Linked DNA regions of Homo sapiens: region 1 is linked to region 2. A link means that fine-mapping ties the variant in region 2 to the expression of a gene that starts in the linked region. Tissue or cell type: whole blood. Region 2 holds a variant in brackets; the other region holds the start of a gene. All regions are shown on one strand. Distances are between the middles of the regions.

Evidence for each region. PIP is the estimated chance that this variant, and not a neighbour inherited with it, causes the effect.
Region 1: STK24 starts here. The variant in region 2 is fine-mapped to the expression of STK24 in whole blood (INTERVAL, PIP 0.92).

The regions. Positions count from the first base shown.
Region 1 is chr13:98,573,376-98,583,325 of GRCh38, reverse strand. It overlaps STK24 (serine/threonine kinase 24), which reads left to right and starts at 6,219. Exons shown (of 11, transcript NM_001032296.4): 1 at 6,219-6,581. The coding sequence starts at 6,540. STK24-AS1 (STK24 antisense RNA 1) reads right to left here and starts at 6,071. Exons shown (of 1, transcript NR_046542.1): 1 at 4,485-6,071. RefSeq lists an enhancer at 5,506-5,695 and silencers at 5,786-5,935, 5,956-6,265, 6,316-7,185, 8,650-8,709.
Region 2 is chr13:98,541,262-98,551,211 of GRCh38, reverse strand. All of the region lies in intron 1 of STK24 (serine/threonine kinase 24), which reads left to right. Among named protein-coding and RNA genes, the nearest start is that of STK24, 31 kb to the left of the region's middle. The variant T/C (reference allele first, on the strand shown) is at 4,977.

The sequences.
Region 1 (9,950 bases), 32 kb before region 2:
AACCAGATTGTCCAGAGCCCCTGGACCAGGAAACAAATGGCCTCAGTAGAAGGCAGTAGGGTTGACTCGCTGTGGGGAAGAGGTGAGTGTATAAATGGTTACTCATGGACTGGCTGTATTATTTGGGGAGGGGAGTACACACAAGAAGTTCTACATATGGAAAAAGAGAACGTGTGTGTGCGTGCGTATGTGTGCATGCATGTCTGGGCAGCCAAGAAGTGGAATGTATTAGGCCAGGAATCTTCTTTGCGTGGGGGAACTGCCCCTTCCACATTCCATTGTTCCATTATGCCGTTCAGGTTGGACTCTCCCATTACTGTGCCTTCTTGCCCTTTGGTCCCAAGAATGGACATGCACAGATGTGAATTCCTCCACTACATTTGGCATATGGGCACTGGGTAAGAAAAGGTCACTCTCTTCTCTCTGGGATTACAAGGACCACATGGGGCAGCTCTTGACACCATACCTAGAGAACCTAGATGAGAGGTTCTCATCTAGGAGAGGCTGAGAAGAGGTGAGAGGCAGAGGAAGACAGAGTTGATTTTATCATTGAACTCATCTTCTTGGATTGATCCAAGCCTGATTTAGCCAAGTGTTGATTTTTGTTGCTGAACTAAAATGTCCCTTTTTTGCTTATGGAGGTCTGAGCTAAGTATTTGTCATTTGTTATTCAAAGACTTCTGACTAACAGTATCTCCAACGTAGCTTCTTTGGGAAACCAAATTTAAAAAATGGCAGGAAAATTAAGGTAAAAGACAACATGCTTGCCCTTTTTGCAGGTGAAGCTTTGATGATAGGGTAGTGTATAGGTCAACATTTTTGTGATGATTTTAAGCTGACTTAAGTTTTGTGCATTGTGGAATGAGTATCTGCAACTCATAGGCACATTTTACCTTTGTGTGCTTGTACAATGATCTTCAAGCACATAATCCCCTGGATCTGGTTGAAGTGAAAATTAAAATGATTTCTTACAATTTGTCTTCCTTGTCAGAAAACAGGGCCAAGAGCTTTTAAAAACTAGTGCTGCAGTTGTGTGACTGTAGGCTGGATGACATCATCCTTCTGGGGATGATTTCATGTATGCCCTTTCTGGGTATGTCTGAAAGCAAATCCAGCTTCAAGAGGAAGGGAAATCTACACACACAGCTCTTGATGAATCTTTGCATACTGAAGTCTTTATGAGCAGATTGGCAGGGTCAAGTGGCCACTGTTTAGAGGGTGACAAGCCCTGTTCATTGGTTCTTTGCCAAGCAAAATTGCACATGAGAATTTTTCTAGTGAGCTCGTTCAAGTGAGTCCTTCTAAACAGCCTGATGTTCCCTGGTGTGAGCCCCCAGAACTGCAGCAGAGAGCATGTGCAACAAAGAGCCCCCTTGGAGGCTCAACCCCCAACTCCCCTGGTAAATTGCACCTCCCAACACAGGGGAGGAGGCAGTGGGGGAGAAAGATGGATCTTGTTTAAATCTTTTGCCTGAACTGAGTATGGATAGGCCTGCAAAATATTCTGAACCCTTTTCTGGCAGATTTTTGTCACGTGTTCCAGATGATTTCTTTTAATCAGGAATATTTTATCAAGCAAACACCTATGCATTCTCTGTTTCTGCTCTCAGTTGTACAGTGATTGGAGACTAGTGTTCTGGTTTCTATGCAAGATAAAGTTTAAGGCCTACACCCAAGGAAATATGAAGCAATGCTTATTAGCAGAAGTGTGCAATGTGAAGTGCGCAGAAAGGTCCACAGGCCTTGGCAAGGGAGAAGGAAGCTCTCATTCCTGAAGCTGAGCCTGGAAGACCCAGCTAAAGGGGGGCTGACCAGACACACATTTGCAGAAAAGGAGGTGTGTTACGGGCTGACTTGTGTCCCTCCAAAATTCCTATGCTGAAGTCCTAATTCCTAGTACCTTAGAATGTGGCTGTATTTGGAGATAGGAACTTTAATAAGGTAACTAAGCAAAAATGAAGTAATTGGGATGAGCCTTAATCCAGTACGACTCCGGTATCTTTCTAAAAACAAAGAATTAGGGCCAGGCGTGGTGCCTCACACACTCTGGGAGGCCAAAGTGGGCAGATCACTTGAGGCCAGGAGTTCGAGACCAGCCTGGCCAACATGGTGAAACCCCGTCTCTACTAAAAATACAAAAATTAGCCGGGTGTGGTGGCGCTCGCCTGTAGTCCCAGCTACCAGGGAGGCTGAGGCAAGAAAAATGCTTGAACCTGGGAGACAGCGGTTGCAGGGAGCCGAGATCTCACCACTGCACTCCAACCTGGGCAACAGAGCGAGACTCCATCTCAAAATAAATAAATAAATAAATAAATAAATAAATAAATAAATAATAAAAACAGGAAATTAGGACACAGGAACACACAGTGAAGACCACGAGAACACAGAGGGAGAAGCTGGCCGCTACAAGCCCGAGAGAGGCCTCGGAAGAAACCAATCTTGCTGACACCTTCATCTTGGACTTCCAGCCTCCAGAATGGTGAGGAAATAAATTTCTGTCGTTTTGGCCATCCAGTTGGTGGTTCTTTGTTACGGCAGCCCTAGCAAACTAAGGCAGGGTGCAACTGAAAACCTACTTAGGGTGATATCCCTGCAAGAGCCTGCCCTCTGAGCTCTCCACGCACAGAATGAAACCTTATTGGTACCATTCCTCAATGTAGCTGGGATATTTTTCTGGGGCTTTGGCATACCTTTTCTTGCTATTGTGTCATCCAACAATGACTAGACATTCTTCTTTAAACTGATCTTGATAATTTGTCTTCACCTACTGAACATGTGTAGAAATTTGTCTAAGCCTTCTGTTAGTTACTTATCCAAGCTACTCCTATTTCTCCCTTTAAAGTTCACCATGTAAGTCCCTTTCTTTAATCTCTGAATTTAAATTGCTAATGCTCTACTTGTCTAGCTGTTCTTTATAAAGCAGCATTTGGGGGTGTTTATCTTTTCAACTTAGAAAGAAAAGTGAAGGGATTGATTGTGGAATTCTTGTTTTCTGTTCCTCTCTGAGCTCTGCTGAGAGTGCGTACAAACTAGCTTAGGGGCAGCAAATACATAGGGGCTTTATATTTGGAGGGGCTCCATATAGGGGTATGGAAATATTCTTTGTGGTCCAGAATATATTTCAGATCATAATTCATTGCCAGACTGATGTCCTTAAGTGAACACAAAAGACAAAGAGGACCAGGGAAGAAAAATAATTCAATGGATAAAGTAAATAACTCAATGGGTTAGTATCTCCATGGAGACCATAAAATGCATCATCTCTATGGAGACTCTCATAATCTCCTTCTGGACTTACGGTAGTGTATAACCTGTTGTAATCATACATTGGGGGTGGAGGGAAAGTGACAAGAGGAAGAGGGTGAGAGGATGATCCTTTTCTTTCCTTGGTGGAAATGATAGCTATTGCCACTCTAAGTTTAATCAATTATGGTATTGTATTCATCCAAAGTTAGGATTCTGGGAGACCAGGTCCCTAGGATGGGTTAAGAGGCACCTGAGGATCTAATGTTTATATGCCCAGTACTGAACTGGGTATCTGACATGTATTAATAGTTGGTATTCAAAAAAGGTGTGAATGAATGAACATAATAGGCAATTGCACCGGATCTGATCCCGGGCTCAGGCCCTGTGCATCATCTCTGTTGTGCAAAAACAAATAAGGTGGAGACCTACTTCTGCCATGGGGAATACTCGGTACTACCTGCATAGGGCCAAGGAGAACCAGTAACTCCCATGTTGCTTCCTTCCCTTCTTTCGATAAGAATGGTGCTCAACAGTATGAACATTGTCAAAGGATGAAACAATGGTCAGTGTGGAGAGAAGATAAACAGGGTTCGGGGCAACAGACCAGCTAATGGATGCAAGTCACTGTGTCCAGAGAAGTTACATCCTGCCGGAATCTCCCTGTTTTGAGCCTCACTAGCCTCAGGACACAAACTAGGATTCCGGTTATTTTTTTATACCCAGGGTACTATGGGCCTTTGTCCCCCATCTGCTGTGACTTATTTGCTGGCAATTAGCCCACTGCAAAGTGATTTCTGAGCATTTACCATGGTAATGTCTCAGATCAGCATCCAGACATTTCCATCCATTCATCTAGTTTCTTGCTCTTTATCTTGGTGCCAGGTTATTGCCCTGGCTCTGCTGACCCTAGAAGAATATTTTTACTGTCCCTTTTCTATGCTTAGACATGTTTAGATCCACAAATATTTACCATTGTGTTATAGTTGCCTCCAGTATTGAGTTCAGTCACATGCTGTTCAGGTTTGTGGTCCAGGTGCAATACGTCATACCATATAGCCTAGGTGTGTAGTAGGCTATGCCATCTAGGTTTCTGGAAGTACACTCTATGATGCTCACGTGACAAAATCAACTAAGAACACATTTCTCAGAATGTATACCCATTGTTAAGCAATACATGACTGTGTGTCTGTAGGCCATATATATTAATATATATATAGTCATTTGAGATCAGTCTATATACAGTGTTTTGTACCCTGTATTTTCTTTAATAATATATAATGAATACATTTTCCCCATTACTAGGTACTGAAAGACATAATTTTAAATGACTACATAGTACTCGTATGAAAATGCTATTATTTACTTAACCTCTGTGAGACTTTTTGGCTGTTCCGTTTCCCCAGGATTCTAAACATCACTGTGTCTTCTTACATGCATTCTTCCACACTTCTTGGTTGTTGCCTTAGGATATGTTACTTTAGGTAGAATTCCTGGGCTGCGCTGAAGAATAGAAACATTTTAAAGATTCACATTCTTGCTTGTTTTGCTGTTCGCCTCTTTAGGTACCATATTTTTTAGGTGTACAAAATTTATACACCTGATTTTAAGTTCCTGGGTATCAGGGTTCATACTTCTCTTAATTTTGTATTTCCTTGCAGTCCTACTTACGGGTGGCAGGGCTCCTCAAGGGATGGGTGTACCAATGACAACCATGAAAGTATTCTAAGGTATTCCCTAGGACTCCGAGAAAAAACATGCATCTTTCCAAAGGGAAAGAAGGGATTAGATGTTAGCATCCTACTCCATGTCAGATCCAGAGCACCCGGGGGAACTGAAGTTCGTGGATGGAATACAATGACACCTCAGAAAAGAAATACTCCTTTGGTGGAGGCCTTTAAACTTTTGGGGGCTCATTTTGTCTGCCTAACTCGCCCAGCCAGGGCGCAAAATGGCCACTTAGGAGCATGAGTGAGGTGCCAGCGTCCCTACAATCTAAGGAGCAGGGAGTCATCACTGGGGTGGCTGCCGCTCTACCTGTTTGCGACTGTAATAAAACACCTTCTGGAGGCCGAGGGACCCGCTTCATCCTGACTTTTCCCCTCAGTAGCTAGAGAGAAGGCGGCTGAAAAGAGGAGACAGAACTGGTGCTGAGTGGGCCTGGAGCTTCCGAGGCAAGGGAAAGAGGGAGAGGGCTGCAGTTCAAAGTCCAGACGCGCTTTCCTTCCATTCTCTTCCCTTCCTCCCTGCCCTCTGCGCCCCATTTTCCCCTTATCGTGGGTGGGGGCTTCTGATTTGCTGCGGATCCCAGAGATGGTGGGGTTCAGCCTCCGCACTGCTTAGCTAAGTTCCCAGCCCAGCAGTCCCAGCCGGGCTGTTTTCGGTAACCAAAGCACTAGGAATTAACCTCTCTCTCGGCCTCTTCCCTTTCGGTTTCCTTCTTGGGTTGGCTGGAAACTTCACCCAGACACCGAAGCAGCTCTGCCCGGCCTTTTGGCACAGGCCACCGGCCGAGGCCCCACGGGGCGCTCTCCTTCCCCAGGTGCCCCCGACTCCGATCCTGCCCTCAGGGGCTCGCCCGGGACGCGTTTTCCCAGAGGCCGCCGGGGCGGGGTGGGCTGGCTGGCGGGAAGAGGGGGCCGCGGCCCAGGCTCGCCCCGGCGCCGGCCCGGTGGGCACGCGGCCAGCCTCCGGCCCCGACTCGGTCCCTCCCGGCGCCCGCCCCAGCCGAGGCCCCCTCCCGGCCCCGCCGCCCGCCCGCGGGGGCGTGGGAGCGCCGCAGGAGCAGCTGGGACCCGGGCCGGGCCGACAGGCGGCGGCTGCGGCCTAGGGCTCCCGCGCGGCCACCGGCCTCTCCCCTCCCCCTCCCGGAAGCGCGGGGCGGGGTCCCCGGCCGGGCCGTGGGGGCGGGCGCGGGGGCCGGGCCGGGGCGGGACGCGCTCGGCGCTCGCGGGCTCGGCGGGCTGTGCGCGCCCACTCCGGCTCCAGCGGCCAGCGCGCGCGGGCCCAGGCCGCCCGGCTCCAGCCCAGCAGTAGCGGCAGCAGCGGCGGCGGCGGCAGTGCGCGCGAGGCCCTGCGCCCCCAGCAGCTCCTCCCTGGCGCCGTGCATGGAGACGCGGCCCGCCACCCGCCGCTGAGCCCCCGCCGCCCGGCCGGGACCCGCCAGGGCTGGGGTGGCCTCGGGCTCCGGCCGGCCCCGCCGCCCGAGGGCTGCGCGCGGCCCGCGGGCCTCGCCGCCCCGCGCGGATCGTCGCGGCCCGGCCGTCCCGTCCCAGGAAGTGGCCGTCCTGAGCGCCATGGCTCACTCCCCGGTGCAGTCGGGCCTGCCCGGCATGCAGGTAGGCGGGCGCGGGCCGCGGGGCCGGGATGCGCGACCGGGGCGGAAGCAGCAACTTGGCGGTATCCACACGGCGTCCCCCTACGCTCAGCCGGCCGGGGTCGCGCCGGAGCCTGGCTCCCCGCGCGCCCGGCTCGGCCGGGGGTCCGAGTCCGAGTCCCTGGGCGTCCCTGCCGGCTCCGGCGGCCGAGGTCTCCGGCGTGTGCGTGCAGGAGCCGTAGGAACCGCGGCCTGGGTCCGGATGTGGGGGTGCGGGCGCCTAGTCCTCCGCGCTCCCCTCGCCCCAACACTCTTCCGGAGCTGCAGGCCCTGGGTGGCCCTGTCCCCGGGAGAAGTGAGGTGGAGTGATGCCCTTGGAGGCCCCCGCCGGGTCCCGGGGCCCTGCGTGGTGGCCGGGTTGGCGGAGGGCCCCAGGACGCGTCCCCCAGGCTCGTCCCCCACCCCCGGGCAGGCGGGCGGGAGACCTGGGCAGGGCGGGGACGGGGAGCGCGCCTGGACTCGTCCGGGCCCGAGCGGAGTAGGCAGGGTGGAGTGGAGGAAGGTAACCGCGAGTTCCACTTGCAGTGGCTTTGCCCGGAGCCCCCGTGCACCTGCGGACCGGGGGAAAGTGCGAGTTGCAAACCTTCTGGAAGGAGGAATCCCTCGGACAGCCGCGCACCAGGGTCCCGGGCCCGGCCCCGGGACCCTGGACTTTCACTTTGAGACTTGGTTGCATTTACAGGAATTCTTCGCCCAGTAAACCTCTCTTTCGGTACTTGGTGACACCTTGGCCTACCAGTGACTTTTTGGGGAGTGGGAGAGGAGTTGAATTTCAAATTTACATGTATAAGTTAAAGGTTTTTTGTTGTTGTTGTTTTCGTTGTCGTTGCTTTTAGCCCTTTGAAAAACAAAGCTACCGTCCTTGGCTAACTCTTGTAAACTTTGTAGGCGCAGAAATGGTGGCAAAATGCTTAGGATGGAAATCTTAGGATGCAGTTAGGATATGTCATGAAAGTTTGCTCTGCCAGTTTAGCTGAGTGAACGTTAAGTGTTTGAAGAAAACCAAAAGCATCCAAGTAGATTACTGGTTGATTTACAGGTACCAACAGGCTCCTTCCCTGTGTCTTGAGGGCTGAGAAGCACAGAGCCCAGACCTGGGACTGCCTCTGGGGTCTGCTCGCCTCTTCCAGTGAGATCATCCCTCTCCCTTCTTTTTTTGAAACCGTAAAAAGAAAACTGGATTTCACTGTTCAGGTTTGAATTCTGGAAAAATAGGAACTCAAAGTTACCACTTTAATGGCAGCTAGAATTTTAGTCCAAGTGTGTGTGTGTGTATATGTGTGTGTGTGTGTGTGTGTGTATATATAAGCAGTATATATATGTGTGTATATATGTTTAAGCAGTAAATAAATATACATTTAAGCAGCAACAGTTAAGTTATTATCTTAAGAGTGACTGGGAAGATGCTTGAAGAATATTCTTTTGTCGACTCTCATTTAAGGAGCGTTGAATTTAGCATGCATTCAAAACCTAAACTTCTGCTGACTGCTGGGTAACAATCAGATGTGGTTTCTTGGTATTTTCTAAAGCCGCTTTGGTATGAATTTAGAGGTGTGTAGGTCAGAGTGAACTGGGTGAAAAAAGTAATTTCTTACTAGTCGAGCAAGAAAGGACTCTTGTAATGATTTAAAAAAAAAGTTTTATCAATATTTCCTTTAGGTTGATATTTATACCGTGTTCATCAGGTTGGAATCTAGCACAAATGCCTCACTTACTAGGTTAATTGGCCTTTGTGGATAGCGAATCAGTTTGAAAAGGTACTAAAGCCCCTTTGGCTGGTGCCGTGAAGTCAGTATCAGATGGTTACCAGGTGATATCTAGTATCTCACCTTTTCATTTTTATCCTCACTTTTTTTTTTGAGTGGGTCAGAATTCTTAAACCTTGGGAAAAGAAGATACATTTCCTTAATAACTTTGCCTCTCAACTATTATGTATCTGTTAGGTTGTGTTACATGGGAACTGTTTTTATTTTGTTTTCTCAGTATGAAAGATCTTAAGTGTTTCTCAGTGGAAAAGATGATCAGATTTTCAGCTGTTACAGTTTTACAGTTTTAGAGGTAGGTAAGTTGGCTTCTGCCAGTCATTCCTGTACCTAAGTACATCTACAGACTGTATGGTAACAGTGTATCATTTGGGGAAGAACATTCTTTTCTCCTCCCCCACCCCACAAAAGAAAAACAACAGCACATTTATTTTCTACTTCAAATTAGCAGTTGCTACTGCCCTGGGAGGCTTCCCTAAGAGTTGTTGCTGAAGATTCAATTAAAAACACACCTGCTTTCGACTGTTGTCTGCTAAATGGGAGGAGAGAAGTCCGTATCTCTTCTATGGCTTGCTCTGATAGGCCTCATAGCCCTCCCTTTTTCTTGTCTCCTGACCAGGGCTTATAAGGAGTTGGCTTAGAAAGACAGCAGAGTCTGTAATCTCAGCAGTTTGAGAGGCCGAAGTGGGCGGATCATGAGGTCAGGAGATCGAGACCATCCTGGCTAACATGGTGAAACCCTGTTTCTACTAAAAATCCAAAAAATTAGCTGGGCGTGGTGGCACACGCCTGTAATCCCAGCTACTCGGGAGGCTGAGGCAGGAGAATCACTTGAACCCGGGAGGCGGAGGTTGCGTTGAGCTGAGATTGTGCCGTTGCACCCCAGCCTGGGCGACAGAGGCAGACTCCGTCTCAAAAAAAAAAATAAAATAAAAAAATAAAGCAGAGTGAATTCAGGTGGCCTAGGCAAGGATGCTTGAAAAATAACAACCATGTTAGTATAAACACCATTTTTCAATGTTTTGCAAATCATTTTTATGCCTCTTGATTCTTACCGGTACCGTTTGAGATGTAGATGATATTATACCATTTTGTAGATGTGGAGACCAAGGAAGACTTAACTGACCAAGGTGAGATCATATATTATGTGGCAAATTTGTGATTGGAAACTACTACTCCTCCTACTCCCACTCATCATGCAGTGTTACTGTTTTATGGTTACTTTTGCAAACATTAAAGTTTATCTCATTGCTAGTTAGATTGGCTAAAGAAATTAGAAATAGGAGGCTGATTTTTTAATTTATTCAATCAGCAACCCTTATTGAACTTTCATGTGCCAGGTCCTAGGGGAGGGGTTGAAAGTGGTAGATCTGAATGAGGTTACCATTTAAAGTAAATGTTTAATGAAAGTTGCTGAAGCCTTTGCTTTTTTTCTCTTAAACCCCAGTTTTATATTTCAGTAGGGGAAAAAAATAGACATCAGAAACTGAATGAATATAGTGACGAATAAACATAAAGAAATCAGGCTGATCTGTGGCTATAAGTACTCCGTCTTTCATTGAGCATTT
Region 2 (9,950 bases):
CGGGTTCACGCCATTCTCCTGCCTCAGCCTCCCGAGTAGCTGGGACTACAGGCGCCCGCCACCATGCCCGGCTAATTTTTTGTATTTTTAGTAAAGACGGGGTTTCACCATGTTAGCCAGGATGGTCTCGATCTCCTGACCTTGTGATCCACCCACCTCGGCCTCCCAAAGTGCTGGGATTACAGGCGTGAGCCACCACGCCCGGCCAAGTGTTGATTTTTATAGGCTGGTCACAATATATATGCATGTATTTTTTTTTTTAAGTTGAACTTAATCTTCAACTTAATTCAGAAGTTGATTAAGGAACTTAATTCAGAAATTGATTCAGAAGGTTTTCTTTTTGCTTTTATTGTTAAAGCATTGAATTGAAAACACTGGAAGCAGTAAGCTGTATAAATGATTTCATTTTATTTTGCATACTTAGAATTGGGCATCTGGAACTAAACAAGAGAGTTTATGCAAAATTACATGCAAATGAGTATTTTTTTACCTTTGAGCCCAGAGCTTTAGGCTTCTACCCTGCTGGGAAAAGGATGCTGTGTCCCTGAGCTTTCATGGGACCACCAGTATAAGTATTAGAAAGGACAACTGGACTTGAGTGATAAATACTGATGGTTTGTCTTTAGAGAGAGAAGACAAAACTACAAGAAAGAGGCCATTCCTTTTTGTTGTTGTTGTTTTTGGAGAGAGGGTCTCGCTTCCTCACCCAGGCTGGAGTGCAGTGGTGTGATCATGGCTCACTGTAGCCTCTACCTCCCAGGCGCAGGCGATCCTCCTGCCTCACCTTCGAAGTAGCAGGGACTACAGGTGTGCACCACCATGCCCAACTATTTTTTGTAGGGACAGGTTCCCCCTATGTTGCTCAGGCTGGTCTCAAACTCCTGGGCTCACGCGATCTTCCCCCCTTGACCTCCCAAAGTGCTGGGATTATGGGCATGAGCCACTGTGCTTGGCCTGTTCCTATGTAAAATGAAAAAGAAGAAACAAGAAAGCTTTTACTGCTTCTAGAGAATTCCCTCAGTTGTAAATGACTAACAGTGTTAATGACGTTTCATGAACTAGGATGAAAATCTTTGTGGAGTATTGAATTGAGTCATCAAAGGGAAGCCTGCAGTGTTACAACCCTAGCCACTATAAATAAAGTGTATTAATGAGCTAGTAGTATGCTGCAGACGACCCACCTGTGGAAGTGAGATTCTTGTGGAAAAGTCAAGATCATTGAAGAGATGTGAGACCACCTAACTGTGAGGTTACACCAGGCATAGTCAGGAGGCAAGGAAATAGGTAGCTACTGTGGTCTGAATGCTTATGGCTCTCCACAGTCATGTTGTGAATCTTAGTGCAATTGTGTTTCGAGGTGGGGCCTTTAGGAGGTGATTAGGTGATTAGCTGATGAGGGTTCTGCCTTCATGAATGGAATTAGTGCCTGTCTCAGGCTGTTCTTCTGTTGCTATAAAGCAATTTATAAAGGAAAGAGGTTTAGTTGGCTTATGGTTCTGCAGGCTGTACAGGAAGCATGGTACAGGCTTCTCTTTGGCTGCTGGGGAGGCCTCAGGGAGCTTTGACTCATGGCCGAAGGTGAAGTGGGAACAGGCAGTCACATGGCGAGAGTGGGAGCAGTGGAGAGAGATGGAAGGTGCCACACACTTTTAAACAACCAGATCTTGCTGGAACTCACTATTATGAGGACAGCACCAAGCCGCGAGGGATCCACCCCCATGATCCAAACACCTCCCAGCAGGCCCCACCTCCAACACTGGGGATTGCATTTCATCATGCAGTTTGAAGGGGACCTCCAACCATATCAGTGCCCTCACAAAAGAGGTCCGAGGGAGCTTCTTTGTCCCTTCTGCTATGTGAGGACAGAGCTAGGAGGTGCCATCCATGAGGAATGGCACTCAGTACACACCGAATCTGCCAGTGCCTTGACCTTGGACTTCCCAACCTCCAGAACTGTAAGCAATGAATCGATGTTGTTTATAAAAGTTGCACAGTCTGAGCTGACTAAGACAGAAGTATTTAGGCTAATGGAGGAAGTTGCACAAGCATTGTTGGTGGTTAGCTGCATATGTTTCAGATGGTCAGAAGAAAAAAATTCTCTTCACTGAAATTGTGTTTCACAGCATGTGTTATCTACATGGTCTCAGGATAGTGTCTCCATTGGGGCTTGTATTAGCAACAGCCTAATTGCAGGAGGCCTCATGACCATTGTCCTACCCCGGGGCACTGATCGGGGTCTTCTCTATTTGTTATTACTAAAGGGCATACCTTGGGAGAGCCACATGTGTATTGAAGGTCATATGGTAGATCTAGTCATTTACTCTATTTTTTTTTTTTTTTTTTTTTTTTTGAGACAGAGTCTCACTCTGTCGCCTGGGCTGGAGTGCAGTGGTATGATCTTGGGTCACTGCAACCTCCACCTCTCAAGTTCAAGTGATTCTCCTGCCTCAGCCTCCCGAGTAGCTGGGATTACAGGTGCCTGCCACCATGCCTGGCTAATTTTTGTAATTTTAGTAGAGACAAAGTTTCGCCATGTTGGCCAGGGTGGTCTCGAACTCCTGACCTCAGGTAATCCACCCACCTCAGCCTCCCACAGTGCTGGGATTACAGGTGTGAGCCACCGTGCCCAGCCATTTGTTCTATTTTCATGTAGAAAGATGTGACACGAGGGAGAATAATAGTGAAGTGTACGCATCATCAGCTGTGTGATTTGAGGGTAAACCCTTGAGATGAGACAGTTTCTTGTCACTTGATGATTTATTTTCCTATCTCAGCCTTTAGTTGGAATTTACTGGGTGTGCCTGTCACTTGTGATTCAGCTGCTTCTTTATGTAGCATTGGCAGTTGTGGCTTAGAAAGGACAACACAGCTGAGGCTGCAGGTCACACCATAATGGGAACAGGGGAGCACTTACTATGTCCAGTTTTAAAAAAAACTTTGTTTTTGCCCCAGGAAAATAAAAAATTGTCTTATTTTAGCCCCAGGAGAATAAGAAAACATCTTATTTTTAGCCCCAGGAACTATAATATGTATGCATTTTTCTGTATTTTTTACAGGTGAGTAAACTAAGGCCTAGAGAGGCAAATAACTTGTAAGAGGTGGAGGTGGATTTGAAGCCACATGCACCTGGCCGTAGACTCCACGTTCTTCTCTTCATGTGGTGTCAGCTCCTCCAGTAGATTTGCTGCTGGAGCGGGAAGTTAGAGTCTCTCTGAGTTCTTAAGGGAGAGAGGGGAGGGCTTGGTGGCCCAGCTGCATAAATAGCCTCATCTACCATGAGGGTTTAGCAGTAGTTTGCTCTGTGTGGATAAGAACTACAGTGTGGGATCAGTTTACTGGAGATGAGAAGGTGAATGAGGCTGTGATATTGAAGTATAGGAAAGGTGCTTGCACATCATGTATTTTCTCAGTTTGCTCCTTTGGTCACAAAGAGTTGGTAATAAGGCGAAGTTTACTAAATTGATGGCTGAATACAACTGGGAGCCTTGCAGAGAAAACCATTTCACAGCTATTGATTTTACTCTTAATCTTGCCTCCCCAGCCCATGGCGTGTCATTACAGGAATCCTGGACAAGAGGTGTCTCAGTACAAATACTGGAAAACCAGCTGACTGCAAACAACCTATTGACTTTTTATCATAGTTGGTCATTAATTTTGTTTTAAAGAAATAGGGTCTCATTCTGTCGCTTAGGCTGGAGTGCAGCGATGTGGTAATGGCTAACTATAGCCTCGAACTGGTGGGCTCAAGCAGTCCTCACGCCACAGCCTCCCGAGTAGCTGGGACTATAGGCGTGTGCCACCGTGCCCGGCTCATTGTTTAAATTTTTGGTGGAGATGGGGTCTCATTATGTTTCCCAGACTGGTCTCTAACTCCTGGCCTCAAACGATTCTCCCACCTTGGCCTCCCAAAGTGCTTAGGTTGACAGGTGTGAGCCACTGGGCCTGGCCACAATTTTAATATAAATTTTAACATAAAAGTTACCCCTTAAAACAATTAGATAGCTGGGCGCGGTGGCTCACGCCTGTAATCCCAGCACTTTGGGAGGCCGAGGCGGGTGGATCACGAGGTCAGGAGATCGAGACCATCCTGGCTAACATGGTGAAACCCTGTCTCTACTAAAAATACAAAAAAATTAGCTGAGTGTGGTGGCACATGCCTGTAATCCCAGCTACTCGGGAGGCTGAGGCAGGAGAATTGCTTGAACCTGGGAAGCGGAGGTTGCGGTGAGCCGAGATGGTGCCATTGCACTCCATCCTGGGCAACAAGAGTGAAACTCCATCTCAAAAACAAACAAACAAACAAAAAAAAACAACAATTAGATATGGAAGGAAGGGGGAACACAGATGTTCAGGGCCTCAGAGATTCAGGTGTGAGTAACTGGAGTCCACATGACAAACACAAGGAGTTCATGTGTTCTGGCCTTTTTTTAGTTGAGAAAGTCAATTTTCTTGGCTCTTCCTGAGCCTGTTGCTTGGTTCTTGACATCTCATTGGAAACTGAAAATGGGAATTTGACTTTCCGTGATAGGGGCTGCCCCACCTGCGTTTGTAGGGTTGAAGCTCAGGCCTGTTGTGGGCGATGTTTGGAGGATAAGCTGGCCTGCTTATCTCTGGGTTGGTTGACTGCGAGACCAGGTGGAAGGACACGCAGCCCATCTGGTGGTGAGTGAGGCCACTTGTGGCCAGGGGACTGAAGGAAGTCCCTGTTCACCATATTCTTGGCAAAATCTGGTCTCCTTCTGGCATAGATTCAGCTTTTGACAGGTCTGGGGATTTCATTTTTTTTTTAAAGCAAAATTATAAAAAAGGCTTTTAAAGTGATTTACTCGTGTGTGTTTTTGTAAGAGTTGGTAGATAGAAGGCTTTTGAAAGTAAGGGCTTTCTCAGATGGACCAGGCCATTTGAGATCTGCCTGAACTGCTCACCAGATCATCTGGGATAGCACTGCCTTTGGGATAAGGTGCCATGCTGTGTGC[T/C]AGTGGCCCTTTCACAGCTGTCTCTTGTGAACAGGGGTTGGGGGACAGTGGGGGTGGCACTAGGCATCAGGTGGACCCCAGCACCCTGCCCAGCCTTTGCCGCAGCGGTCATCTGTGCATTGTCTTTTAAACTGAACAATTTCATGTATCAGAAGTTAATCCTGTACTCTTAGCCTTCATCAGTGAAACCCAGAATGACAAGGACTTTAAGACTGGTGTTGAATTATATTCAGATCTTAAGCAATTCCTGTGATCTCCCAATTTCTTTAAACTTTCATGTTTTTTTTAGCTTCAGAAGAAGAGTTTTAAGGTAACATTTTTTTCTTGAATGATTTCTCTTTTTTTGTATTTTCATTTTGTCGGTTTTCCCTATGGAAAGAATTGTTTAAAAGTCATGCAGTAATTACAGTGTTTGGTGTAATATAATTCAGGATGTTTCATCTAATATAGAAAGACATTTGCCGCTTTTAGCTTCTTTATTATTATCCATATTGATTTAGGGTAATGGATTTGAGTTGTCTAATCACTGACTGAGCAGCCAGGAATAAACTTAAAATCTTCTTCCTGAAGCCAAGTCTGGCACTTTTTTTTTTTTTTTTTTTGAGATGGAGTTTTGCTCTGTCACCCAGGCTGGAGTGCAGTGGCGTAATCTCGGCTCACTGCAAGCTCTGCCTCCCGGGTTCACGCCATTCTCCTGCCTCAGCCTCCCGAGTAGCTGGAACTACAGGCGCCCGCCACCAAGCCTGGCTAATTTTTTGTATTTTTAGTGGAGACGGGGTTTCACCGTGATCTGGATCTCCTGACCTCGTGATCCACCCGCCTCGGCCTCCCAAAGTGCCGGGATTACAGGCATGAGCCACTGCGCCCGGCCTAGTCTGGCACTTTTTGATCTGCACGTGTGTACGTTAAAAATTGAGATGTTGCCCTGCTTTTCCCGAAATATGCCTGTGTGAAATAGGCTCATTGCTAACAACTGGGACAGTGCAGAAAAACAGAGAGAACATACTGTTAACATCTCAGTGTACCTCATTCCACATGTTTTCTTTGAATGTGTGCAGGAGTACGCCTGTCCCTCAACCAAAAGGGCACCAATTCCTGTCATTAATTTTACATTGATGTCTACCTAGGTAGTTTGCAGCTTTAAAAACATTTTTGGAAAACTTTGGACATATGAATCTTTTCACTTGTCTATTTCCCTAGGATAAACTAACTGGAAGTGGGGTTTTTGCCTTTTGCTTATTTTCATTTTCAGGTATGGAACATCTTTTCTGATCACTTTTCCATCTTTTTAGCGCTTCCATTCTTCAGATGATATGCTTTTTTGTCATTGTTTTCTACTTTTTGCTGCTTTTAATGTGATGTTTATTTTGATAATGATTTTTATTACCTTCATCTCTAGCTGTGTTAATGCTTTTTGGAGACTTAAAAGGTGCTCCGAATTGTCTGTAATTTCTTTGAGAGTTGAGAGTATTTTTCTGAAATGTTTCCCCTCTCCCTTGGGAATTCGGAAATATTTTCCTTTTGCTTGTTTTCTTTTTCACCACTGTCTTTCCTTGTAGAGGCGTCTCCGCATGCCTCGGTGTGGATTCTTTGGCTTAGGAGGGGACCTGCCATGTACCCTGGCCTCAGGTCGGCTTGGAGGGTGGGGAGCATTGCCTCCTGGGGCGGGCGGCTCTGTCCTCTCCTCTCCGGCCTGCCCTGCCTTCTGCCGGCTGGCTGTGCCTCTGCCTGCTCTACCCGGCGGGATGAGATACTCCAGGGGGGCTGCGCCACTCCCAGTAGGGCCCTTGCTTCCCAGATGCAGGGTCAGGGCCCAGTTGCCTGGGGCCCACAGTGCAAAGCTGGCCTCTCTTCCAGGAAACCTTCCTGGTTAGGGAAGTGGAGATGCCCTCGTGGGCCAGGCCTGCTGGGGACTTCTGTGTCTGCAGTTGGGCCACGGGAACGTACCTGCCACCTCAGTTTCAGAGCCTCCTGCCCCTGTGCTGGCCTAAGGTCCTGCTGTGTTCTCAGTTGTCGCCTCAGCCTGGGGCAGAGGTCATTGTGCCCGGCAGGTAGTCTTTGTCATCTGTGGGTTCAGGTGAGAGTAGTTCCTAGTTTTATTGCAGATGGACTTTTCTTCTCACTCTCCTTCCTTTATTAACTTCAGCGTGGGCCACAGCAGCCTAACGTAAATGCACCTTTCATTTAATGGCTTTTACTAGAAGCCTCTTCATAGCTATTTTTAAACCTGAGGTCCACTAACATGACTCCAAATTAGAGCCAGGATACTCACACTTGCCAATTTACATTGTGTGCTGTTCTTATGAAGCCTAGGATCAAAAAAGACCCAGAAGTAAAATCAAGTTTCTTTTGTATAGCATGTGGTTTATGCGTGTGGGTGACCGAGTCTGCCGGATACTGAGTCGTGGATGGCAGCTTCTGGCGGTGATCCGTTCAATAGAAGCCATTGATGACCGGCACCGCATCTGCAGGCTTCACCCTCGGGGCGGCTGGCAGCTCCTCTCTTGCAGTCGAGGGGTGTCCTGCGTCCTACCATAGTTCAGCACCATCCTTGGGGGCCACTTGGGAGTAGAGGGCTTCCGGGCCCCAGTGCGGGGTCTCCTGTTGCTGCCTCCCCTCTCTCTGTATTCTCTGTCTCTCTGCAGCGATCAGACCCGCGTCTTCGGGTCCGCGCCCACCCTGGCCTCACCTGCTGCTTCTCAGCTGCTGTTGATGGAGACCAGCTGTTTGACCTTTCGTAGTGTGTGCCTTTATTACGCACCAGAATGTTCTGAGAGCAGGACTGAGGCCCCACTCTGAGAGGTGCAGTTTGGGCAGACCGGGAATTTGGGGCAGCTGTGTTTGTGCTTGGAGACCTTTTTTGCTTGGTGCTTCTGGAGGGTCGAGGTTTCTCAAATCTGAGTGCCGAATCAAAGTTGAGTTGTACTGAGAGAGCCGCAGTTAAGTAAATGTATGCAGACTTCCTGTCAGGTCCAGCCGCGGGAGCACATTGGTTGAATTATTCATTTGGTTTGCCCTTCAAGTGTTTAGTTCTCTTTTTTTGGGGAAAAAAACAACTCTGTGGGGACACTTGGATAGAGAGGATTTTCCCGAAGCTGTAAACTTTGGAGGATGGCATGACTGGTCTCCTCCCAGCCGGAGCGGAGCTGCGGCCTCTCCCCCCTCCCTTGGCCTTTGCTGGCACCTGTAAGCCCCCGGAGGCTTCAGTCTTTGGGCCTTCCAGGTCCACGCTAGCTGGCTGCTGTTTTCTGCTACAGGAAGTGGTGGATCTGAGACTTGGTACTCCGTCCCATCGTCTCCACAAATACACCCGTTCCTGTCAGGCCGCGTGTTCTGGTGTTGTTTGGAAATGAGGGGGTCTAGATTTCAACTGACCTCTTACGGACATACAGGGTAAGCGTTGGTACTTGGACGTGTAGATGGAGAAAGTAGAGTAAAAGACAAACGCATAGAAAGTAGATTGCACCATCAGCCTTTCTAGGGCTGTGGGCTGCTTTGCTTCCCGTCACTTTCACTCCAGGAACAAGGGACTAATATGGAAAGGAACCTAGGAACCGGGAAACCCGAGCATTTATTAGGCTCAGCTGTATGATTTTTAATGTGTGTTTCTTTATCTGAAGTGCATGAACTACCTTGTAGGCTGTTTCTTGGGTCTAGGAAGCCATTTATATTTATATGCTGGTTTCCTGAAAAACACAGAGTGCTCTGTGAGTATGAGGGGTTACTGTGTTGTCACTTGAGTTGACCCTGGAGTTTGAGGCTGGCCCTGTTCTGGTTACCATCAGTAAAAGGCAGAGCTGGGAGGAAGTTGGAACCTACCAATTGGCCGTTTTTTTTGTTGTTGTTGTTGTTGTTTGTGCATAGGATGAATGTATTGTTTTTGTCAGTCCTTTTTACCTTAACAGACGAGAGAGTTGGCTGGAATGGTCCCTACTCAGCAATATTTATTTAGGTTTGCACACCTTCCAAAACGTTGCTTATTTAAGTCCCATTTACAATGCTTTAAAATGGCTGACATATCAGTCAGCGCTAGGGTCGGTGGAGTGTGATGTCAAGAAAGTATTAAATCATGAGAGCTGATTACCATGTCCAGAAAATAACGCAGTCTTGTAAATAACCTTTGTCTTCAGGTCGGGATAAGAAATGAGTTATAAACGGCCCATGGTTAAAGTCCTAGTGGACCCTTGGAGAACAGCGGGTGGAGATGGAACGAGCTTTGACTCACTTGTGTTCTGTGTCCTTTGATCTGTGCCAAGGAAGAGATTGCTTTGAAATGCACGATTTTATTTTCTCAACTAAATATTGTAGCAGCAGTAATGGAGTAGTGAGTGGAAAAGTATTGCTCACTCTATTCCACATTTCCCGGAATTTATGTGATACACCCTGCTAACCCCCGGGCTTCAGTAATACCAGTGCGTGCTGTTTAGATGTGCAGATAAAATACACTTCCTCATGGTAAAAGGGTAAAGTGTCATGGATGAGGGCACAGGCTGTTGAGACAAACTGGTTCAAATCTTTCCTACAGTTCATCTCACCTTTGTGTTCTGGTTTCCTTATCTTTGAAGAGATGGGGATTACATGATTTAATTCTGTAGGGACAGCATCTGGTACATTTATTACATTGGCAGCTTCTAAGTCAAAAATAAGAAATATCTCTTGAAAGAATTTAAAAGTTTATTGTAAATTAGGTTATAATTTTCCTGAACCCTCCCACTTTCTGGCTCTGATGCTGACATCATGGTCTCTTTGCTCACAACCTCAAAAGTTTTCATAATACTGCCATTAGGAAAACACTGTTTCCTTTGAACATCTGAACAAACTGCCCTTCATAGTTGGTCGGGATGCAGCTGAAAGTGTTGGGTCCTGATTTTGATCAGCTTGAAGCTGTTCCCAGACCAAACTGAGGGTCAGGCTGCTATTTCTCGGGCCCAATAATGAGATGCAGATGAACTGGAGAGGAAGAGCGTTTTTATT